Homo sapiens: one gene and its partners. The protein of the gene in region 2 purifies or fractionates together with the protein of the main gene of each other region. This does not show direct contact. Each region holds a gene or a part of one and is shown on either strand. Other genes may lie near its edges. The genes, in order: TCEAL2, LRRFIP1, MCTS1 and TMOD3.

Region 1 (6,912 bases), on a different chromosome or scaffold from region 2:
TTATTCCTGGACACAGGTAAGATTTACCCTAGTCCTCTTCCAAGTGTCTGAGGGGGTATTTTTTTCTGCTAGAGCAGGGGAGAAGGTAGATGCCAACCCAACAAATATATTCTCTACCTTATCCAACCCACTCAGCAGTTCTGAAAAGCAAGGTATTATCTCTATTTGACAAATGAAAAGACTGTCCGTTAGAGCAATGGATCTGTAATAACCCCAGATTGACTTCTCCAGATGAGTCCCACAGGTAGGTAATGTGAATTTTACCTATCATTTTAAGTTCTGACAACAAGAACGTTAAGTGTCTCTACTGAACTTCATAAGTTCACTGGACAGTTATTCTCTTTGCTTTTTACATACTGTTCTGATTTTTTAAAAATATTTTATTATTTTTGTGAGAAAAGTAATTTGTGTTCTCTGGGAAAAGAAAGATTAGTAGAAAGAAAACAAAGAAATGAAATCACCTGCTAGCTCACAACTCAGAAAACCACTGTTAACCTTTCATGTATTTAACAAAAACAGACAGATTCTGTAGATGATATTATAAGCTGCTTTATTTTTCCACGAATCATGACGTCTCTGCAATGCACATGTGTGAAAATCTGCTACTGAAACATAGAGCAAGCAAACACTGGCAGGTGGGTCAAAACGCTACTGGTAGCAGGAGGAACGACTAAAGCAAAGTATTACCATAAGGTTAAAACATATGGCCTGACAAATGCCTGCCAGGGACACTACACATAAGGAATGTCTTCAGTGTCCCTTCGTGGGGCCCTGCAGCCACCCCTGAATTCCCTTGGACCCCTAGGATAGAAGGGGTCCTGTAAATTTCTTTGCATCCACAAAAACGCCCCCAATTTCTGTTTGCTTTTTCTCCTTTTATCCTCCACCCTAGCCATGTTGTCAAATTCTCTTATCATGTCCTCATTGCTGAAATTCATATCATGTATGGCTTCCTTATATTGCTTGAGGTACTGAGCCAGCCCCTTGTTGGTTTTTCTTTTGGCTTTCCTGGGTATATCATCCTCAGCTGGGCGCTTTCCTGCAGCCCTTGTTTCACTTTCTGGCTCTCCCTCACTCTCTGGCTCTCTTTCACTGTCTGGCTCTCCTTCACCCTCTGCCCTTCCCCCTCTCTCTGGCTTTCCCTCTGTCTTTGATCCTCCCTGCATCTCTGACTTTCCCTTCCTCTCTGACTTTCCTTCTCCTTTTGCCTTTCCCGCACTCTCTGGCTTTTCTTTATCCTTTAACGGTTCCTCAACTCTCTTGCCCGTGTTTTCTGTGTTTCCCTCGTTTTCTAACTTCTTGTCTTCCAGAATACAAGCTACTTCTGGCTTTCCCTCGTGCGGTGGCTGTTCTTCATTGTCTATCTTTCCTTGATTCGAAGGCATTCCTTCATTTTCATTGAAGAGTTTTTCCATGTCGAGATTTCCCCTCCTTTTCCTTTCCTGGGGGATGGGTGTGGAGGGAAGAGGAGACAAAGAGGAGACATGGGAGACTGAGGGCATGGGGTGGAATGCAGGTCTGGATACTACTTGCATCTCACCCCTGGTGAGGGTTCCCCTAAGCTGACTGGGCCTCCAAGAGGGCCTTCTGCCCACCACGTAGCCCACCACTCCTCCCACACACGTGAGCCAGCTGTTCCCTGGCAGGCCCTGCCACCTTCTCTGCACTGGTTCAGCCTGGTAAGGTGTGTGTTCATGTAGGTAAGGGGATGGGCAGGGGCCCCAATTCGGCCCTGACTGTGCCCTCCACACTCTCAACCCTTGTGGGCCCCTGTCCATGCAGCCCCCTGCTTTCACGGACCTGCGGGGATTCTGGACAGGTTGCTCTTCCTTTTCAGGCCTCTCAGAGCGCTGGGAACAACAGACGCGCAGACCTGCGGACAGACAGGAGACAGGGGCAGGGGCTGCGCGCTTAGCGGGCTCACAGGGACTCGGTTCCCTTTCCTGAGTCCAGGCCCTGCTTACCCACCGTTTTCCTCCCCTACCTCCCCCGCACCCCAGCCGCCATTTCTTTCCAGGCCTCGGGCACCAAACCAGGATGCTTTCCAAACTGCGTTTGTCTCTGTGTCCCCCTTCCCCGGAGGCAACCTGCCCCAGCGCCACCTCATTTTTGCGGAGATCAAGTGTTTCCATGGGTGTAGATTGTGAGAAGGGGTTATTTCCAGAATATGTCTACGTTTCACTGTCGCACTGCGGGGTCGCTACCCCCACCCCCCATTTCCAGCACTAAAATGGATGGAGGACTCAGTGCAAGGGGGCGTCGAGAAGGCGAGCCAGGCTTGCTTCGGGGGTTCTCCCTCCACTGCCCCCGCCCCCGCGACTCCGCATCCCCCTCCTCCCCAATCTACCGGATCCCTTCTCCGCCCCCTCCCCAATCCTACTGCCAGCCCCCTCCACCCCTGTCCCAGGGTCCGCCGGCAGCGCACGCCTTCACACTGACCTGCGGGGACCCAGGACAGGCCTGTGCCTCCTGCGGCTCGCTGAAGCCCGCTCGCTGCTCCCCCGCCGCCTGGGCAGCTCAGACAGCTGATTCTGCGCGGGCGCCCGGACCCGACCGCTGGGCGGGCTGGCGGGCGGGCGCGGGGGCTGGTGCCCACGTAGGCGCCGGGCGGGTCACGTGAGCACCGCGTCACCGGAGCTCTGCCCCCGCTCTTGCCTGACACACCTCACCTTGGAGCTGGGCCCCCCTCTCTTTCCTGACATACCTCACCTTCCATCCCTGAGGGACCGGAGGCTGGGGACGGTCGGAGTCTCGGTGCGTTTGTGTAGCAAAGTGGGGTCGCGGAGAAGAGGAGGAGAGGTGGCTTTCTGACCCTAGGTGCTTTACCTGACGCAGCTCACAGCATCCTCGCAAGGCATATCTCTCTGATGCCCATTATCGCCAGGTGTGACAGCTGATCATAGAGGTACCGGACTTTGCCAAGAGCGCTCAGCCCCAGAACTCCACAGCCCACTTTCAATACCGGCTCTGCCTGACTCCAGAGCCCGGGGGGTAGTGGTGCCTGCCAGGAAGCTGAGCTGCCACCTTGAGTGGCGGTGTTCCTGGGGTTCTGTCCTGGGCCTCCTCTCTCCTCAGTCCTCAAGTTGTCTCTCCCTGTGTGATCTCATTCATTTCCAGTAAACACCGATGACTCCCAGATCTACAGCTCCAGGCTGTTCCCTTCTCCGTGTCTCATATCAGCTTTGCCAACTGTCTATTGGACATCACCGCCTGAGTGTCCCTGAGGGACCCCAAAGCCCGTGTACCCCAAATTGATTTACCAACTTCCTTCTTGCCATCTCCCTTGGTCTCTCTCCACACTTGAAACTTACCTTCCAACATTTGATCAGTTTTCATAGAGAGAGAATGTCAGACAGGTAGAAAAGAAAGCATTAAAACATTTTAAATATGAATTTCAGATGCACAAATTCATCATAGTCCTTGGTTTACAACACACCCTTATCATCGATCCCTGCTTGTCCCTCTTCCTTCCCTTTTCTTTCCCGTCCTATTATTTCCTCCCCTTCCCATCCTTTGTCTTTTTTTTCTTTCCTTTTCTTTCACATTCGTGAAGCCACCACCCACAAAAACTAAGAATCACCAATATTTTAGCTTCTACAGTATAGTGACATGTATATGTATATATACACATGTTTATTTATACACACATATATGTATAGATGTATATGTGTGTACATATGTATGTGTATGTCTTGTGTATATCTGGGCAACAACTATTTTTATTTTGATTTGCAAAATACCTTATCATGATTACAGGATTATGAATTATGTGTGTTACACAAGCAATTCTGATTATATTTCTGCTACACATCTTTCTTCATTTAGTAAAACCTTGATCTTCCTACAGTATTTTGCTCTATCAATATGTGTATTCGTCATTATCACCACATCACCAATAATTCTGTCCTCAATGTTGAATTTTTTTCCTGAATTATCGAGGCTAGGTGTTTCAATTTCATCAGTATAAACTTCCATAAAATTATTATAATTATTCAAGAATTTGATGAAAATAATATCAAATCAGTTGAAAAGAACTGATTTTCTGTTTTAATCATCTAATTATAGTGATTTTAAGCTGTCTTCAGTAACTATTTGCTAAGTTATTTTGCTAATGGAGCCAAAGTATTAACAACTATTTCTCCTCTTTTAAAACATATACACAAAAATGTGGGATTCAAAATTAGTATCATTAAATTTGAAGAAATGTCATTTTATCTAAATTAAAAGATCTGTTCACAAAATGAGAAGTCAACACAACTTTTGCATTTGCATGTAATAAATTGACACATTGTTCCTCAAGTAATTACTACCTTTGGAAGAAGATATAATGACAGTTCTCTTGATGCATAGTATATGTTGATTAAACATATTTTAAGTTAAATGTTTGTCATCCACTTTCTTAGAAAAGTAACATTACTGAACATACCATTCACTAGAGACCTTTTGTTTCTTATTGCAGAATAAAAGTATCATTCCCATCAGTAAAATAAATATAGACATATATTAACACTATAAAATCACTAAGTGATACCAACACCTGGCAGAGACACACACACAAAAAGGAAACTTCAGGCCAATATCCTTAATTAACATGGATGCAAAAATCCTCAACAAAATAGTGGCAAACTGAATACAGTAGCATGTCAAAAAATGTATCCACCATGATCAAGTAGGATCCATCTCCAGGATGCAAGTTTAGCTCAATATACACAAATCAATAAATGTGATTCATCACATAAACAGAACTAAAGACAAAAGCCACATGATCATCTCAGTAGATGCAGAAAAGGCTATGGATAAAATTCAACATCCCTTCATGTTAAAAACTCTCCATAAACTAGGTGTTGAAGGAATGTACCTCAAAATAACAAGAGCCATGTATAACAAATCCACAGCCAACATTATACTGAATGGGCAGAAGCTGGAAGCATTCCCCTTGAGAACCAGAACAAGACAAGGATGTCTCACACACTACCAGACAAAAACAATGCAAAAATGGAAGTAAAAAGTGGAGATCTGTGGTAGGCTTAATAATTGCCTTCAAAGATATCCAGGTCTTAATGCCTGGAACCTGTGAATTTTACCTTATATGGCAAAAGGGGACTTTGCAAATGTCATTAAGGATCTTGAGATAGGAAGATTACCAAGGATTATCCAGGAAGACCCTAAATGTAATAACAAGTATTCTTATAAAAGGGAAACAGAGAGAGATTTTACTACGGAAGAAGAAGGCAATGTGAAAACTGAAACAAGATTCTACACTACAGACTTAGAAGATGAAGGAAAAGGCCATGAGCCAAGAAAGGCAAGGAATGCAAACTCCAGACGATGGAAAATGTAAGAAAATAGAGTCTCTTTTGGACCTCCAGAGGAAGCAAAGCTCTGCCAATATCTTTACTTCAGCCTAGTAAAACTAATTTTGGACTTTGGACTTCCACAACTGTAAGAGAATTAATGTGTATCATCTTAAGCTAACAAAATTGTTATTTGTCACAGCAGCCCTAAGAACTAAAGGTTTCCTAAACCCATTCTGGCTTATTTTAACATAAATATCAGTAATAAGAGTACATTTTTAAAAATGACAAATTTTGGAAAACGTTAAGCTAGATGGGATCCTAGGTCAACAGGTAAAAATAATTAGGACTGTTCAGGGAAAGCCAGGAGATACTTTTATCCTAGAGGTAATTTATGTAAAGTCACTGGCACAGTGACTGGAACATAGCAAGAGTACAATTGGGTGAGTTTTCTTAGCTCCCTGGACAAGAATGCAATGCATTTTTAAAAACTTTTTTACATAATTGTAGATTTATTTGTAATTATAAGGAATAATAGAGATCTCTCTTATTCTTTTACCTGTTTTCCTCCAATGGCAACATCTTTTGTAGCTACAGTAGAGTATCACTACAGAAAATTAATATTGATATACTCTAACAACCTTTTTCATATTTCACCGTTTAACACACATCTATTTGTGTGAGAGTGTGCATGTTAGTTATATGCAATTTTATCACATATTTTTTCCCAGATGGAATCTCAATAACCTCCACATAGATATGAAAGGTGTTATTAAAAAAAATGGTTAGCACAGGAGAAATGACCTATCCAAGCCCTATGATGTAACTGGCTCTCAATGTTCTTTTGCAATGCTCTTCTGAAAAACCTCTTCTTGCAATGCTCTTCTGAAAAGCCTCTTCTTTCGGGGTCAATTGCACATATTTTTCTTGAGAATTTAACATAAAATATACAAAATGAATGATGAAGTATATGAAATAAAGTGAAATGAAGTGACGGTTTTATTTTACAAATTCAGTGGAACTGGTCCAGTGATTGTTCTTTTTTTAATTACTTTTATTTTAGGTTCAGAGGTATATGTACAAGTGTGTTTTAAGGGTAATTTGCATGCTGCATGTAATTTGCATGTTGTGGTGTGCAGATTATTTCATCACCCAGGTAATAAGCATAGTAGCTGATAGGTAATTTTTTAGTCGTCACCATCCACCTTCAAGTAGGCCCTGGTGTCTGTTGTTCCCTTATTTGCATCTATATATACTCAATGTTTAGCATGCACGTATGTGAGAACATGTGATATTTTGTTTTCTGTTCCTGTGTGAGTTCACTTAGGATAATGACCTCCAGCTTCATCCATGTTGCTGCAAAGGACACGATCTCATTCTTTTTTATGGCTATATAGTATTCCATGGTGTATATATACTACATTTTCTTTATCCAGTCTACTATTGATAGGCATTTAGGTTGGTTCCATATATTTGCTATTGTGAATAATGCTGCAATGAATGTACACCTGCATGTATCTTTATGGTAGAATAATTTATATTCCTTTGGGTATGTACTCAGTAATGGGACTGCTGAATTGAATGGTAATTCTGTTTCAAGTTATTTGAGAACTTGCCA
Region 2 (4,593 bases):
TTGATATTTTGACTATGAAAATGAGGAATTCTAAAACACAAGAGAAAATAACATTTGATTGTAATTCTGAACTGCATTGGATTTTTATCTATTTATGTTATCCATTTATGATGTGTTTTGAGTGTTTTGCTCTATGTCCTAGATGTTATTTCATTTCTAAAAATGAAAATCATTCATAGGAAACATACAACAGGGATCCTGGTCTGGGTTTTCAACCATTTCTTTTCCAAATCTTCTAATTCAGGTTACAGCAGTGGTTCTCAATGGGAGGCGCTTTTACACGCCCCTCACCCCCGCAGTGGACATTTGGCAATGTCTGGTGATGTTTTTGTGTGTCATGACCGGGAGTGGGGTCTACTGGCAATGAGTTGGTAGAGTTCAGTGTTGCTGCTCAACATCCCACGGTGCAGGGGACAGCCACCCCAGCCACCAAGAACGACCCAGCTCCAGACGACCGTCGTGCTGAGGCTGAGAAACGCTAGGTTGCAGGGATGAAAGAAGCCAGCAACCAATTTCCATTCGTTACATCTGCAAAAAAAGTTTTATTTTACTAAATAAATTTAAAAATCGTGTTCTAGCTTCCTCTGGATTAGGAAGTGTGTGTAACATTGGTTTGCTGTTTCCAAAAGAATTGGTGGGAGAGGTAGAGACTGAAGGCTTGACTTCCTCAGAGCCACTGATAGGGAAAACGCCATCTTCTCAGGGCTGTGAGACACCTGGGAATCGATGCCTTGCAGCCCTGTTCTACCAGCTGGGAGACTTCTGCCAGTTCACCTTCCTGGACCCTGGGTCCCTCATCTGTAATGTGGATTTGATAACAGCATCTACCTCATAGAATTTCCGTGCAAATGAAATGAGTGAAAATATGTGAAAATTGCATGAGTGAAAAATACCTAAAAGCGTCAGCATGCTGCCGGCCGTGTCTGCGTGATGTGTGAGTGTTTGCTGCTGGTGTTATTCACGCATGACATAGACATTTTCCCAGTTAAACATGCTTGTATTCAGATGTTGTGGAAGAAACCTTAAGGATGAGACAAGGAACTGAATATCTCCCTTTTGCCGGTGGGCCCAGCATGGTCAGCACAGGGTCCCTGAGGGGCTTCGTCCAGCTTCCTTCCTCTTTCCTGTTCATACGGTGCCCGGGTGTGCAGTGTGGGTCTCCCAGTGGTGCCCACCTGCCAGCACATTTTGCTCACCTGTCCGACCCGTGGTTTCCTACTTGCCAGTGTTGGCCCCCAGCCCCCTATAACTTGTCTGCTTCCCAATGGGCAGTGGCAAATATCCTCTGCACAAGGAGATACAAAAATCTTGTGTATTTTAATAGAGATTTCATCTCTTTCTTAATGCAACGCAGCTGTGTATATCCTAGATCCATACAGTTCTGGGGGATGGACACTGGTGACCCCTAGCATTATGCTGGGAGTGTTTTCTTGATTATATACCCTGAACTCACAACCCTCACTCCAGCATTCTCCATGTGTTAAGACTAGATATGGTTTTGGATGATACTGACTCAGTTTCCACTTGCTAACGTCCCGAAAAGCTGACTGGCTTCACCAGCCATACTTGAAATACAACATATATGAACAGTCACTAAAAATCAGCAGGTAGCTAAACGTTTTTACTTTTGTCCTTGATGATATTGCCATCGTCTCTACTGTTACCTCCTCCTTCACTTCACTTTTTAAGTGCACTCATTCTGTGAAAACACCTTTTTTTTTAAATAGGGAAAGAAAAATGAATTGACTTGATATTCTTAAAAAATAAAAAGATGACCCAAAATATACAGAACCATTAATATGAAATTAAAGATCTTCTTTCTCAGTGGAAAAAAATTAGAACCACATTGCTGAAGTCTCTCAACATTTCATTTTTAATTTTTCTAATAGTACATTCTTTAAAAGAAGTTAACGACTTCAATTCCAAATATAAGGATTAAATAATGCAATGAAAAGCTGTCATTTTCAGTGAAGCTATTGCCTAATTACCCTGGAAAAAAGTATTCTTATGACTGAACTGATGCAAAAATCCCTTAGAAAAGCTTCATTTGTTGCCTGTAAAGAGTCTTCTTAAGGTCACTTTTACTTCTAGACTGCCCCCTTGTTTCCAGTGAAAGAGTTTTGCTTGGTAATGGCTTGTGGTTCCACAGTGTTTTGTGTATGAAAAGCGTAGACTAAGAGATACTACTGAAGTCGCTCAAATTGTAGATTCTGCCATGAAAGGAAGTCCCAACACTGTAACATTTCCCCTTAATCTTCAGCAAGACACATGAAAAAAAAAAAAAACTCAAGTCCCAACTGAATCTTTACTTTGATCATCACTTCCAGCGGCATTCAGAGGCTGCTGTGCGGTCAGACACAGAGCTCCCTCGAGGCCCCTGTGTGCTTATGAAGTACCTGCAGGTTCTGAGCGTCGGCGCCAGCCCGGGCCAGGGGTCTGCAGACAGAGGCACCTGGTGGCTGCTGGGGCTCCCTGGGGTGAGCCATGGCACGGGAGCCCCTAAGCGCCAAGCTCGCCACGGTCTTCGTCTCTCGGAAGGCAGGGGAAGAAGCAGCGCTCCCAGATAGGACAGAGAAAAGCCTATGAAACAATGCTCTCCAGTCACCAACCAGTTGCCTGATCAGAGCTGGAATTTACTGCTGGGACAAGAGTGCACTCCGATTTGCTTTCATTTTTTCCAGACGCTTCACTAAGTGGCCGTTGCTCACCTCGAGCTCTTCTGTTTTATCCAATGCAGAGCGGAGCTGGGAACGGAGGAAAGGCAGTGAGCTTTAAGGAACTTGTTTCCTCCAAACATAACAGGGTTCTGTGTTACCGAAATTCCAATCCTACTGAAAAATAAAATGATAACTTGGCCCCTGGTCCCTCATGATGCCCTTCCTCCTCTGAAACAACTGGACTCCAGAGAGGGAACACCCTTGGGGATCCTGATGGTTTTCTTTTTTTTTTCTTGAGATGGAATCTCGCTCAGTCGCCCAGGCTGGAGTGCAGTGGCGTGATCTCGGCTCACTGCAAGCTCCGCCTCACGGGTTCAAGCGATTCCCCTGCCTCAGCCTCCCGGGACTACAGGTGTGCGCCACCACCCTCAGTTAATTTTTTGTATTTTAGTAGAGACGGGGTTTTGCCATGTTGGCCAGGATGGTCTCGATCTCCTGACCTCGTGATCTGTCCGCCTTGGCCTCCCAAAGTGCTGGGATTACAGGCATGAGCCACCACGCTCGGCCTCTTTTTTTGTTTGTTTTTTTTTTTGAGACAAAGTCTCGCTCTGTCACCCAGGCCAGAGTATAACGGTGTGATCTTGGCTCACTGCAACCTCCGCCTTCTGGGTTCAAACAATTCTCTTGTCTCAGCCTCCTGAGTAGCTGAGACTACAGGTGCACACCACCACACCTGGCTAATTTTTTGTATTTTATTAGAGATGGGGTTTCACCATGTTGGTCAGGCTGGTCTTGAACTCCTGACCTCAGGTGATCTACCCACCTCGGCCTCCCAAAGTGCTGGGATTACAGGCGTGAGCCACACGCCCAGTGGGGATCCTGATGGTTTCACAAAAGGTAAGTGAGGCATGAGGTAAACAAACACAAACAACAAGAGCTGAGCCTGGACTGCATGGCGAAGGTGGTCCCCACAGCCCTGGCAGCCAGAGTCCAAGGCAGGAATGCCTGAGGCCAAGACGGCCACACCTGGGAGCCAGGGCCATGGAGCCTGAGAGTCAGGCAGAAGACGAGCTGCAGAAGCCACATTAGCAGGGCATCATCTGGACCCACAGGCAGCAGGGCAGAGTGGGGTGCCCTAAGCTGGGAGAACGTGGTTTTGGAGGGGTGACAAGAACAGGGTCTATGGCTCTGCTTTCGACCCAAAACACTCAAGGAAGCTTGTTTGGGTCCTGGGACAGAAGTCCCGACCCCACCTCACTAGCAGAGGCAGAAGCAAGCCCTTTTTGCAGGAAGTTTCCACAAGTTAAGCCTGGAGTTATTCCTACAAATTAAAATCAAGCATAAGCTCACAAAACACTAAGGTGACAAACCATTTGAGTGAGAGTCAACAGAAGCAATAAATGACAGAATTAGACCCCCAAAGACTGAGCATGTTTCAGTTGTCAGATACAGAAAACCAAACAGCTGTGTATGAAATATTTAAAGAATAAGAATACAATTTAAAAAGAGGACATACATGAACATGCAGCAAGAAACTATCAACAATGAAGACACTTTTTAAAAAAAATGGTGAACTGGAAAATCTTTGCAAAAACTTTAGGCATTATCCAATAGAGAGAGGTAAGGAGATAGAAAACATGAAAGAGAGATGGTTAAAAAATGTGGAGACAATGAGAATCTCTAACATCCTCTGATTAGAGTTCCAGAGGGGAAAGTGGAGAGACTAAAAAAGAGGAATTATTTAAGGAGTTAATGGTTGAATATTTTCCAAAATCAATTTTTAAAAAGACTTCACAGATCCAAGAAACACTATATATCTCAAGCAGAAAGATTCCAATAAACTACATCTAACAGTAAAACTGTAGAAAATCAAAGACAAACAGAACCTGAAAGAAACTAGAGAAGAAAAAAAAAGGTCCCTACAAAGGACCGACCG
Region 3 (7,036 bases), on a different chromosome or scaffold from region 2:
AGACCCAGCTGGAACAGCCAGCCAAATGATCTCTCTCTTTTTGCTATCCACCCTCACCTTTCTCACCAACTTCTAACTGTAACACAGGTCACCACAATCTTGTATATGTCTGTATCCATCTGAAAAATAAAATCACATGTCATATATTGGTAAACAACCAAATGAAGATGGCTAAGACACTAGAATAACAGCAAGGTTATTAGGAAGAAAAATGGTCTTTATCAATAAATAAATCCACAACTGCTCTTTTAACTCCCCAAACAGATTACTGTTCTTACTAAAGCAGGTCCATGTCCCTCATATTCCACTTATAGAAGATATACATTATTTAAGGAGTCTAGTGGGGACCCAAATCCAGATGTTCTGGGCATCTGTTTGGTATGACTTTACTCAAAAGAAGGCACTAAAAAAACTGAACCTGAATCTGATCAATCTTATTTGTTTACAGGATATACAGGAGGCATAAAAACAAGTTAATGACTTCACAGTGATACAATCAACAAAATCCAGAATATGTGTGGAAACTTTAAAGACAAAACAACTAGATTTCTTAAATAATTTAAGGGGGAAAAGAAAAGGTAACTTATAAATTAAACAGACTTCAATAAATAACAACCAAATGCAATGTATGAACCTTGTGTGGTACCTATTTCAAGCAAACCAACAGTTAAAGAGAATTAACAGTCTAGACAGTTGATCATATTAAGAAACAGTTCAACTTTTTAGGTGTGATAATGGTATTGTGGGGTTTTTCTAATTTTTAAAGATACACACTAAAGTAGTTATGACGCCAGGCATGGTGACTCATGCCTATAATCCCAGCACTTTGGGAGGCTGATCACTTGAGGCCAGGAGTTCAAGACCAGCCTGGCCAACTATAAAATATATAAAAATTAGCTGGGCACGGTGGCTCATGCCTGTAATCCCAGCACTTTGGGAGGCAGAGGGGGACGGATCACTTGAGGCCAAGAGTTCAAGACCAGTCTGGCCAACATAGCGAAACCCCATCTCTACCAAAAATACAAAATTAGCCGGGCATGGTGGCACGTGCCTGTAATCCCAGCTACTCAGGAGGCTGAGGCACAAGAATCGCTTGAACCCGGGAGGTGGAGGTTACAGTGAGCCAAGATCGTACCACTGCACTCCAGCCTGGGCAACAGAGCAAGACCCTGTTTCAAAAAAAAAAAAAAAAGAATAAAGTAGTTATGGATGAAATGATAGGATGTCTGGGATTTGCTTCAAAATAATTGGGGGGTGGGGAGAAATAATTGAGGTATAGATGAAATAAGACTGACCATAAACTGAAACTGGGTGATGGATATGGAGAGGTCCATTATACTATTCTCCAGACTTCTTAATATGTTTAGAATTTTCCATTGAAGTTTTTTTTAAAAAAACAATCAACAAAACACACACACACACACACACACACATACACACACACACACACACACACACACGAGAATGAGCACTGCTGGGTCCCCTGGAGTAATAGAATAAAATTCCTAGTCTAGTTTCTAGCCCCATTTAACTAGACAGTTTCTCTAGAGGTCTACCATAAAATGGCAATCCATTGACCAAGTCCTGCTCTTCACTCTTATATCATTAGCCTAAGAAAGGACATTAGTTGTATGAGTTTGCTTACTTACCAGATACCTTTTAATGTCCAAGTTTGCTACCCAATTTTAACTTGAGTTTAAGAAAACTTAAAATAATTTCTGAAGCTAACAGAATTTTAGCATCTGGTGAATTTATTCAGCATAACCACAGGCATTATCTTCATGCTGTCACACACAGACACAAACACAGATACAGCACAATATCCATATTTAGCCCAAGTGCATTCCTTCTGAGGCTCATTTATATGTCTTCATATGCCACAGCCCATCATTTAAATAATGGATATTTTCAATGCCAATTCCTTTGTTGACTTTCTCACTGTAGAAGGAAAAAAAACACATAAACATACTTTTATGCATTTTTATAGTCTTACTCGTGATAAATATAATTCAAAGTATATTGTTATTTTTTAATTATTAAGCCACAAGTAAAGAACTTATTGACATCACAATTACATTGTTGTTTATATTAAACTACATTACTCTGTGGCAGCTCATATCTAAAAGTGATTTTAGTGATCTAACTAGTGGGTCTATAGAACCAGAGTAACAATGTCACAAGACTAGGGGAATATCAAAGTGCTACATTAACCCTGAAACAAAATTAATACCACTAATTTGGTCATCAAATGGGTTCTAAAATTTTTAAATATACTGCCTATGTTTTGATAATATATCTTTACTAGTTCTCTAAATATTCTACATTTCTTGTATTACCAGGTCAGGATATAAGATACTGTGTGGTGGTGAGATATATCACTGTTTTTAAAACTAGCAGTAATGACCAGGTGCAGTGGCTCACACCTGTAATCCCAACACTTTGGGAGGCCGAGGTGGGTGGATCACTTGAGGTCAGGAGTTCGAGACTGGCCTGGCCAACATGGTGAAACCCCATCTCTACTAAAAATACAAAAATTAGCTGGACATTATGGCGCACACCTGTAATCCCAACTACTTGGAAGGCTGAGGCACAAGAATCGCTTGAACCTGGGAGGCAGAGGTTGCAGTGAGGCGGGATCGCGCCACTGCACTCCAGCCTGGGCAACAGAGTGAGACTCCATCTCAAAAAAACTTAAAAAAATAAAAATAAAAATAAATAAAATGAAGCTAGCAGTAAAACATCTTCCCTCCTCCCCCAATTTAAATGATACTAAATAAGATTCCTAAAGTACCACGTACACACATATAAAACAGCTGTGTTGGCACATGGGTTCTTTTCAGTGCTTAAGAAAGACTACAATCCTGAAGACAAAATAGGTTTCATTGGCTTCCTAAGTGTTAGGAAATATCAGAAATGAAGCTTCTGTGCTTGGATATTTGTGTAATGTGGTATGCATGATAGCAAATTTCACCTGTAATTCTGATGCTTCCTGGGTTGGTTACCCATATATCAAAAGTTAAGGGGGCCTAAAGTAAGACTTACATGTCTTCTGCAGACATCTTCATGACTCCAACACATAGAGCATGCTGTTTTCCTTCTGCCATGATAGCCTGAAAGAACACAGCTAAGAAAACTATTTATCAAAATGCCTTGGGGCCTCCCCATCAAGGGAAGGGTGTCAAATAATGATCATGTTACTAGTTAAGCCACTTGGAACCCCTCTTGTGTCTTCTCCTAGACCATTAACTCCTTGAGAGCAGAGACCTAGCAGAGTCTGTGGGTACACTGTAAATACTCAGTAAATGCTAAATGAATAAATCTAATAACCCCTTTTCTTTCAAGTCAAATGTTAATACTATAACCCCATGCTAACAAAACCAGAATAAGTCACACAAAAAAGGAGTAAAATTTCTTGCACATAAATACTAAAAACTGTGAAATCAATAAATATTAATTGTTCTGATTAATTATTCTGATCACTGACTAGTGGGGATTTTTGTTTGTTCTTGAGACAGAGTCTCACTCTGTTGCCCAGGCTGGAGTGCAATGGCGCAGTCTTGGCTCATTGCAACCTCTGCCTCCCGGGTTCAAGCAATTCTCCTGCCTCAGCCTCCCGAGTAGCTGGTGCTACAGGCGTGTGCCACCACACCCAGCTAATTTTTGTATTTTTAGTAGAGATGGGATTTCACCATGTTGGCCAGGCTGGTCTTGAACTCCTGACCTCATGATCCGCCTGCCTCAGCCTCCCAAAGTGGTGGCATTATAGGCGTGAGCCACCATAGCCGGCCGTTTGTTTTTTTGAGATGGAGTCTTGCTTTGTCACCCGGCTGGAGTGCAGTGGCATGATCTCAGCTCACTGCAACTTCTGCCTCCTGAGTTCAAGCAATTCTCCTGCCTCAACCTCCCTAGTAGATGGGATTACAGGCGCATGCCACCCCACCCAGCTAATTTTTGTATTTTTAGTACAGACAGGGTTTCGTCATGTTGGCCAGGCTTGTCTCGAACTCCTGACCTCAGGTGATCTGCCCGCCTCAGCCTCCTAAAGTGCTGGGATTACAGGCATGAGCCACCACACCCGGCCTGAATGGTGGTTTTATGTAAAGGCTGTTTTAAAATAATAGGTAAATTCCCAGTCTATCTTTAAGAGCCTGATATAACAGTTTCAACCTTTCTAGAAAAACCAGAGTGGTCTTGGTTAACATATGAAGTTTCTGGAATGTTAAACACTGCAGTACATATTTTAAAAAGTCAAGATTCAGGGTACACAAGACCTCTCTGTACCATTTTCTTTAACAACTTTCTCTAAATCTGTAACTGTTTCAAAATAAAAATTATTTTTAAAAGTAAAGACTAGGTACTAAGGAAATTTTCCATTTAAGGTTAACTCCAGAACTATAAATTTACCAACACTTAATAAATATTAAAAACAAACAACAACAACAAAAAACCCGTCCTCACTTTTCTCCCTTGATTTTCAATTCACTCAGTGTTCCAAATATGTGAGCACCTATTAGGCAAAAAGCATGTCAACATAAGCTGTTCCTAGAATATAAACATACTACTTATACTACCTCTTCGCTATAACTGCCCCAACAGAGAATATCATTTTTTTTTCTTATTCTTCTTAAACACACCCCTGGCCAGGTGTGGTGGCTCACACCTGTAATCCCAGCACTTTGGGAGGCCAAAGCGGGTGGATCACCTGAGGTCAGGAGTTTGAGACTAGCCTGACCAACATGGTGAAACCCTGTCTCTACTAAAAATACAAAAATGAGCCGGGCGTGGTAGTGGGTGCCTGTAACCTCAGCTACTCGAGGGGCTGAGGCAGGAGAATTGCTTGAACCCAGGAGGCAGATGTTGCAGTGAGACAAGATCGTGCCACTGCACTCCAGCTTGGACGACAGAGCGAGACTCCATCTCAAAAACTAAAATAAGATAAACACACTCTAAAAGTAGTTTCCCTATTCCCACCAAGTACCATTCCTTTTCTATACCCGAGGCAAATGGCTACTTTAGCTATGATAAAGGAGAAGATGTTCTCCTGTCCAGAATAGTCACAAAAATCTATTTAATCCAGAAAATAGCTGAAACAGCATGGTAGAAATGGAAATAATGCAGAATTATTCAGCTATGTCATGAGTTGAATCGATCTTTAAGGACCATCTGGGACTCTGACATTTCTCTTTGAGAAAACGTGCTCTGAGGCCCCCAAACTCAACTTTTCAAATAATTAATTTTCAAAATAAAAGTTGGAGGTTGCCAATATTTCCCACTATTCACTCCTAACACAAAATTGTTGCTTGGTAAGAGATACCTATACCTGGTGCCTAAATTCTTTTCCCTTTTGAGAGCTTTCACTCCAACGTATGTCAGTAAGTCAAAATGAACATTACAGTGGCAAGTTGATATCCAAAAAGCTGATCCAATTATATCATCTATATCCTTTCCCCTAGTAATCAAGAATTCCCTATTGTGTCCTAAGTCTGATAACAGTAGGCCCTGACTGGGCTGAAATGCAGCTGAGACTCTTCTGTAACTTGTTCTCATTTAACTTCTAAGAAACGACCTAAGATGAGATAATTTAGTAGCAACAAATAAAATTACTTTGTACAACTTCAAATGTAACCAGAAAGGCATGAGATAAGAGTAACAGTAACCTTCAAAAAAGTACATCTAATGTTCTCTTGGATGGTACACCTTTCGCAGTAATGATAAGAGCACAATGAATACATTTTTCAGCAGTTTTAGCCTGGGAAGGATACAACAATGGTATCTACTGCAGCAGGGTAAAGCTTAGCTCCAGGAGAAGTTAAGCCTGGACACATGATATTTGCTCCACTGAGTACAAATTTGATGGCTCCTTTATCAACCTGCTGGTGTGGCAGGATAAAAGGATCTGTAAGAAAAGATATACAATATATTAATAATAAGACTAATGACTCAACAGAAAAAGGCAAAGGATCTGAACAGTATTTCCCCAAATTAATCTGACAGATACAAAAGAAAACTCTGAAACACTATCATTTGTTTACCAAATTGGTAATCTTTTTTGTTTGTTTTTTTGAGACAGGGTCTTGCTCTGCCACCCAGGCTGGAGTACAGTGGAGCAATCAATACCTCACAATAACCTTGAACTCTTGGACTCATGCAATCTTCCCGCCTCAGCATCCCAAGTATTCTCCAAAAACCGTAATTTCAAAACTATGGTTTTTGGAGACTACTTAATATGCCCTGGGAAATTTTTGTGATATAATGTTAAGTGAAAAACGCAGAGTAAAAAAACGATTAAAAAGATCAGTGGTTACCTGGGGTTGGGGAAGTGGGGGGAGGAAGGATGAATAGGTGGAGCACAAAGGATGTTAGGCCAGTAAAACCATTCTGTATGATACTTTAACAGTAGATACTTGACATGTATTTGGGAAAAACCATAAAACTGTAGAATACAAAGAGTAAACCCTAATGTAAACTAAGGACTTGCGTTAATAATAATGTATCAATGCTGGTTCAATTGTTACAAATGTATCATTCCAAAACAAGATGTTATTCATAGGGGAATCTGAACTGGGGAGAGGGAACTCTATTCTTTCTGCTTACTTTTTCTGGAAACCTAAAACTGCTCTAAAAAATAAAAGCCTGTTAATTTAAAAAAAAACTACAAGGGGATGAGGAGAAGTTGGTTAAGGGGTATAAAAATACAGGTCGATAAGTTCTAGTATTCGAGAGTACAATAAGGAAATTATATTTAACAATGATTTACTCTATATTTCAAAATAGCTAGAAGAATTGTAATCTTCTCAACACAAAGATAAACGTTTGAGGTGACAGATACCCTAATTACCCTGATTTGATCATTACACGCTGTATAAAGGTATCAAATATCACATGTACCCCTAAAATATGTACAACTATTATAAATATATATAGGTGGTGGGGGATACAGGCACCACAACAGCAGACAATGTACAGCTATGACGTATCAATTTTTAAAAACTATGTAACAGAGAGCCCAATTTTAAAAAAAAATGCATTTACACAC
Region 4 (6,918 bases), on a different chromosome or scaffold from region 2:
AGTTTTTGAGACAGGGTCTTGCTATGTTGCCCAGGCTGTCCTGGAACTTTTGGGCTCAAGTGGTACTCCTGCCTCAGTCTCCCAAGTGGCTGGTACCACAGAAGCGTGCCACCACATCCGGTTCTAATTATGTTCATGTATCTGGCTCATCTCAGGTTCCAAATAAAATAAATTTACAGAATTCCACTATACTCTATGTAGATATGTCACATACATTCAAACAGTATAGACAGTATAGCCTGGGGAAAGAGATGACCAGTGAATGGAAAAAAATATTGACTTTAGTTGTTCCCCACTCCTGCAACTGGAAAATATCTCTCCTGAATATCTACCACGTTTTTATTCCCTACAGGTGGCTCTTACAAGTGCTGTGGACTATACATAAGTATATCTGCCTAATCCCAAAGAGAATAAGGTCCTAGACAGGAACCATGTCATTCATATATATATATATATATATATATATATAATTTTTTTTCTTTTTTTAGAGAGACAGGGTCTTACTCTGTCACGCAGGCTGGAGTGCAGTGGCACAATCATTGTCTCTCACTGTAACCTCAAACTCCTGGGCTCAAGCAATCCTCCTGCCTCAGCCTCCTGAGTAGCTAGGACTACAGGCATCACCACTACACCTGGCTAATCTATTTTATTTTGTAGAGACAGGGTCTTGCTATGTTGCCCAGGCTGATTTCAAACACCTGGGTTCAAGCAATCCTCCTACCTTGGCCTCCCAAAGTGCTGGGATTACAGGTGTGAGCCACCAGGCCCGGCCCTGGCCTCATGTCTTATACATATTCACCAGGAGCCTGAAACATTGCTTTGTACAGAATACAGAATGGGGCAAGACACATACTTGAATTCATGAATTGCCAAATTAATGTGAATGAAAACAATTAAGGAAGGAAGAGGAGGAGAGAAAAAAAAAGCAAAGAGAAAAAAGAAAAACTAGCAAAGAGAAAGGAAAAGGAAAGAAGGAGAAAAACTTATGATGACAATTGTTCTTGTTAGAGTTCATAGGACTACAGTATTTTAAAAAACTGAGAGTTGAAAAAGCCATCAATTATGTATCTAATATCAGTTATCAGTACCAGTATTTAAATTGCTATTAAAAACACCTGAAAATACCTCTAAAATTACCTCCCCACACTTGACATTCAAAGTATGGTCTCTGACAGCATCACCCATCAGACATACAGACTTTGGACTCTACTTCAAACCTAGAATATCCTGAATGAATTATGCATGCTAAAGTGTTTGAAAAGACTGCCCTCCACCATTCAGGGCCTTTCTGTTGTACCAAACCTGTTTTGTTTCAATGGGCCAGTAATTAAGACACGAAAAATCTTTGAATGGGATTTGACCTGTACCTATTTAATTTCAGATGAAGTTATTAATTACAATGTAGGTTGGCATATTGGATATACCACAAAATTTAGGAATTAATCATAAAAAATATGATTAAATAAAATTGAGCAGTAGGTCTACAGCATTCTCAAGAACTCATGTTTGCTCTTTCTCATGTCTATCATAGGACTTGGAATGCATATCGCCAGTGTTTCCTGAATGAGCAAAATAAATGAACTTTTAAAAACGAGAGATATTTAGGGGCAGAATAATCTTGGGGGTCATCTGGTCCAACAACCTAATTTTAAAGATCAGCAAACTACAATTTCTGAGAGTTGCAAAAGCAAAGAAAGCTCAAAGAATTAAAATATATTGGGACATTTTAATTCGTTTTGTTCCTTTCGTAGGAATGTGTAAGAAAGGGGACTGTAACTATTATGATTGCTGACTCTTAAAGGTGAAAAGGTGCCTAGGAAGAAGAAACTAGCAAGAGTAAATGAGACTTGGCAAAGCTATTTTTCCAAGCCTAATATATTTTTGACGGGCCAATTAATCAATTTAATCTGCCAAAAAAATTAATCTGAAGGTTTCTCAGAAAAGGAGAGGAGACATGAGCTGCATGAAAATGTTACAAACCAAGGGAGGCTGCACATAACTAACTTAAATCTCCACAGGCTTATTTCCTGTTGAAGTATGGCCTCCTGGGGTAAGTTTTACTGCAGTGTTCATTGCCAGATGACTTTTGGTTTTAACAGAGGCCAAGGGCAAGTTGGAAATGCGATTCTTAACTAAACATTAAAAAGAAAAAAAGAAACTGTGGCTGTTTCCCATTTCTGTTTGTAATCAGAATGCAGGCTTGCGGAGGAAACACACCATCCCCCGCAAGCAAAAATATAACGACACAGTCACGTCCTCAAAACAAACTAACACACAAACTTCCCAGCCGGATCCAGCTGTGCTGCCTGGGAGCTAGGAACTTAATTCTAAGAGCAGACAGATCAAACCGGTGAATGCAAGGGCAGCCACATTTCAATCACAAAAAGGGTGTGCCCTAAGTTTTGGCTCCCCCACTCCGCCGCCCCACTTTCAACAAGCCGAAGCCTTTGAAGGAGGCTCGGTGCCATCTCGGTGTGATCGCGTCCCGGCGACGCTGGGTAGGGTGCAGGGAGCCAGCTCGGCCGCGGCTCAGCGGGAGGGGAGGGGGCCGGTCCCGAACCCGGGCGCCCGGGCCGCGGGTGATTCACTGGGAACGCCAGGTTCGCGCGCCTAGACCGGCGGGCGACGCCCAGCGCGCCCCACGTCCCCCGCCCGGGCCGTTCGCGCAGAAGCAGCCCCCGCGCACCCCTGCTCCCCGAGACGGACCCGTCGGGAAGGAGCCTGGAGTCGGGCGGCCGGCGGGCAGCAACCTCTCCCTCCTCAGCCACCATGGCCGGTGCGACTCCCTACCCGCGCCCGCAGACGGACTTCCTGGAAAGCACCGGGCTGGGCTTACCTGACTGGCGCCCGCAGGGGCCGCCGACCTCTTCACAGACCCACGGAAACTGCCGGCCGCAAGCCGAGGCTCGGTTCCCAGCACCCGCCGGTCCGCCCGCGTCGGCCTCCCAAAGAGTTGCCAGACCCACCCGCCAGCAGCTCCCTCACTCGACCGCCCTGTAGGTGCGGTGGGTTCCTCCTTCGCCTCCGACGCGCGTGCGCACTCCCGTGCCGCGGGGCATCCTGGGAGTTGTAGTTCTAGCAAGAAGGGCGAGGCTCAACGCTGACCCTGGTCTTTACAATGGGCAGAACGTAGGAAGGGGACTGCGAATACCAACCCTTATCCCAGTCTAAGATAATGTTCTCTACCCGTGGAAGTACCTACTATGGACTTCCCCGAAGCTGGAAATAGTATCTAGAGGCTCTTTGGTATAGATTTCCTTTTTACTTTGACCTTTTGTAAAGAAGCGCACATGGCAGGGCTTGCATTGTAGCCTTGGTTGTTAATGCGAGGACATGACATTGGGGCCTTTAAACTGGTCATGACAGAGTTATAGAAAAGTAAAGGAATAAAATCTAAAGCCCAAGAGAGGCATAAATCATGCGAATGTCACCTCCAGGGTGTGGTGACCTTAGTGGTTTTCTTAGGTATGCGTTTCGGGGATGATGTAGCTATTGCAGGGCAGTTTCTGCCCATCCTATCTTCCCTTTCCATCTTCAAGCTCTACACCAGGCGGTGGGGCTGGCTGCTGTAGTGGGAGAAAAAACAGAATAGGCTGCTCAAGGGGGGGATTGGGGCAGATGGGTAGTCTAGAGGGAAGAGGAAGAGTGTGGGAATCTCTCAGAGGACTGTTTGACAGTGGCCTATGTAATGGCTACCTTTTGTGCGAGGCTCTGAGGAGAGGGAACTGCGACATTTTTCCATTTATTCATTTAGTCACTTACTGGGAATTTTCCTGGCCTGCTCTTCAGGAGTAGACCATCCCCAGGAATAATGCTAAACTTTGACACACCTTTCAAAAATGCAGCCAAAGAAGTGGACTGACGTGCCTGCTTGAGGTACATTCCAGCTACACCCAGTGTGCGAGCCACTTCATGGTTTAAACCTCTCCTGGCATCTACTTCTTCCCCTCAGAGGAGGGAGGACCCTAGGTTAGATAAACATCCTGGAATTTCATGCAACTGGCACCCACTAATTTCAGCAATGGAGATCACTGATGGTTTAGGTTTTTAAGGGAAAAAAACCCTTCTTTTTTTTTTTCCAAGACAGAGTCTTGTTCTGCCGCCCAGGCTAAAGTGCAGTGGTGTGATCTCGGCTCACTGCAACCTCTGCCTCCCAGGTTTAAGTGATTCTCTTGTCTCAGCCTCCCAAGTAGCTGGGATTACAGGCACGTGCCACCACACCCAGCTAATTTTTGTAGTCCTAGTAGAGATGGGTTTTCACCATGTTGGCCATTCTGGTCTTGAACTCTTGACCTCATGATCTGCCCACCTTGGCCTCCCAAAGTGCTGGGATTACAGGCGTGAGCCACCGTGCTTGGCCAGGAAAAAACCCTTCTCAATTGCAAATACTTAGAGGACAGTCAACACTCAATCTTGTGGCCATTGCATTTTATTTTCTATACCATCTTTGGGTCAATCTCTTGGAGATAACAGCTTTCTGAGAGCAATTTCCTACAGAATTCAGGTTCATAAGAATGTTTATACTTATAATACATACCAACCACTGGGCCAGCACTTCATTTGTAATATCTCATCTAATCCTCAAAACTAATCTAGTCCTCAAAACTCTATAAAGAATAAACTGGTATCCTCCATTTCTATAGATAAGAAAATGAAGACTCAGAAAAGTTAAGTAATTTGTATAAGGTCCCAGAGCCAGTAATTGGAGATCCAGAGATGAGACACAGTTCTCTTGAGTCAAATTCTAATGTGATTTCCACTGCTGATCAGACTGATGTGTCTCCTAAATCTCATCAATTTTTTTTTTTTTGAGACAATCTCATTCTGTCACCCAGGCTGTAGTGAAGTGGTGCTATCATGGCTCGCTGCAGCCGTGACCTCCTGGGCTCAAGCAATCCTCCAACCTCAGCCTCCTGAGTAGCCTGAGCAGCTGGGACTACAAGCATATGCCACCACACCCAACTAATTTTTTTAATTTTTTTTTTTTTGTAGAGACAGGGTCTCCCTATGTTGCCCAGGCTGGTCTTGAACTCCTGGGCTCAAGGGACCCTCCCACCGTGGCCTCCCAAAGTACTGAAATTATAGACATGCAACACCATACCCAGCTGATATGGTTTATTTTAAGAAGGACTTTCCTCTGCAATATGGCTTCTTTTGCTTTGGTCAGAGAGACTTTTTAATTCAGTGTCTGACTGACTTAATCTATTACACTTTTCCTCTCTCACCTTCCAATATGGGCTGTTAGGCATATATTAAATATATTTTCGCTATTCATTTCAAATTTTTCCTAACGAATGTATACATCTTATTTTAGTTCCTTTTTCTAAAATAATGCAGTTTGATGGTGGATTTTTTCCTTTCTTCAGGCATACATTATCATATTTTTATCACAAAGCTTATAAACATGAATCTCTTAAATCCGTGTACATTAAATACCACATATGGGGCCAGAGATGTTAAGAGTAATACCTTAGTATTGGATAGCACTGAAGAGGTAGAACCTTCCTCACTTCTTCCACTCCTTTGCTATAACACATTCGCTATATTAGCAGCCAGAATGACTTTTTTTTTTTTGAGACGGAGTCTCTGTCTGTCGCCCAGGCTGGAGTGCAGTGGCGTGATCTCTGCTCACTGCAACCTCTGCCTCCGGGGTTCAAGCAATTCTGCCTGCCTCAGCCTCCCTAGTAGCTGAGATTACAGGCCCCCCACCCCACCACACCCAGCTAATTTTTGTATTTTTTTAGTAGAGACGGGGTTTCGCCATGTTGACTAGGCTGGTCTTGAACTCCTGACCTCAGGTGATCTGCCCACTTTGGTCTCCCAAAGTGCTGGGATTACACGCGTGAGCTACCACTCCCAGCCCAGAATGATCTTTTAAAAACAAATCAGATCATATCACCATCTTGCTCCAAACCGTTCATGGCTTCCATCACATTTAGAATAAAATCCATAATTAACACCTCTACAAATCTGTATATGATTGTTTTGTTTCCTACCACATATTCTCTCTGATACTGCTCTAGTCATACTGGCCTCCCTGAGGTTTCTTAATCCTGCCAAGTTTCTCCCCATCTCAGAGTCTTTATGCTGTGCAGGAGAATGATTTTCCTCCCAGATGCTTCTAGCTCATGCCCTCATTTTAATGAAGGTTCTGCTCACATGTTACCTCTGAAAGTCTTCCTCTTACCACCTTACCCTGCCATTCTCTCCTTTCTTTACTTGTCGTCATAGCACTTTTACCACATAGCTTCATATTGCTTGTTTCCTTAGTGGAAGCTCAACAAGCTTTGCTTTGTTTACTCCTCCATCCCTAGCATCTACAATACTGCCTGCACACAGAAAGTATTCAATAAATATTTGTAAATAAATGAATGTTGGGTTCTTCCCTCTCTCTCCTACTCTCCTCTTGGGACACAGACCCAGAAGGTTCACCTGTAAATGCCAGCCAGTGACCTGATTTGGATGTAAACACCAGCTGCAAGAGGGTTGACTACACAGGAGAATAAGATCCTGTGAAAGTCCTGAAATAGAGACAGAGCTCTCTTTTAAAAAGGCTATAATTTAGGGTTGCCACTATTCCCTTAGAGTTGGAAACATAATTCTTGGAGGAAAACAAACAGGAAAAACATGGAAATTAGATTTACATAAATAAGTGAAAAGGTAAGTCCACTAAATACCTGTGGTAGATTGAAATATTGTTCCCACATATTTGCTCTCCTTTAGAGGAATAGACAGGCTTGCCCACTACTATGTGACTTCCAGTGCTGCCCCGCAGGCATTCCAGGCTTGGCTATGATCCCATGATGGGATTTTCCTCCTCTCTTCGGTTAAATGTCATATTGTAATCACAAAGTTTAGAAACATGAATCTTGCTTTGGTCAATAAAATATAAGTGGAAGGGACAATCCGACAGTTCTG

The links.
Region 1: the proteins of LRRFIP1 (region 2) and TCEAL2 purify together in Homo sapiens (affinity purification with mass spectrometry; 2 studies listed by BioGRID and IntAct, with this or other methods). This does not show direct contact.
Region 3: the proteins of LRRFIP1 (region 2) and MCTS1 purify together in Homo sapiens (affinity purification with mass spectrometry; 2 studies listed by BioGRID and IntAct, with this or other methods). This does not show direct contact.
Region 4: the proteins of LRRFIP1 (region 2) and TMOD3 purify together in Homo sapiens (affinity purification with mass spectrometry; 2 studies listed by BioGRID and IntAct, with this or other methods). This does not show direct contact.

Annotation. Positions count from the first base shown.
Region 1 is NC_000023.11:102,121,334-102,128,245, reverse strand, and holds TCEAL2 (transcription elongation factor A protein-like 2), read right to left. Parts: upstream 2,568-6,912; 5' UTR 2,440-2,567; intron 1,874-2,439; 5' UTR 1,801-1,873; intron 1,443-1,800; 5' UTR 1,416-1,442; coding exon 732-1,415; 3' UTR 534-731; downstream 1-533. UniProt on the Homo sapiens protein: May be involved in transcriptional regulation.
Region 2 is NC_000002.12:237,777,573-237,782,165, reverse strand, and holds the end of LRRFIP1 (leucine-rich repeat flightless-interacting protein 1), read right to left. Parts: intron 2,745-4,593; coding exon 2,634-2,744; 3' UTR 523-2,633; downstream 1-522.
Region 3 is NC_000023.11:120,607,085-120,614,120, reverse strand, and holds part of MCTS1 (malignant T-cell-amplified sequence 1), read right to left. Parts: intron 5,897-7,036; coding exon 5,763-5,896; intron 3,111-5,762; coding exon 3,043-3,110; intron 1,939-3,042; coding exon 1,857-1,938; 3' UTR 1-1,856. UniProt on the Homo sapiens protein: Translation regulator forming a complex with DENR to promote translation reinitiation.
Region 4 is NC_000015.10:51,825,755-51,832,672, reverse strand, and holds the start of TMOD3 (tropomodulin-3), read right to left. Parts: upstream 3,021-6,918; 5' UTR 2,837-3,020; intron 1-2,836. UniProt on the Homo sapiens protein: Blocks the elongation and depolymerization of the actin filaments at the pointed end. The Tmod/TM complex contributes to the formation of the short actin protofilament, which in turn defines the geometry of the membrane skeleton.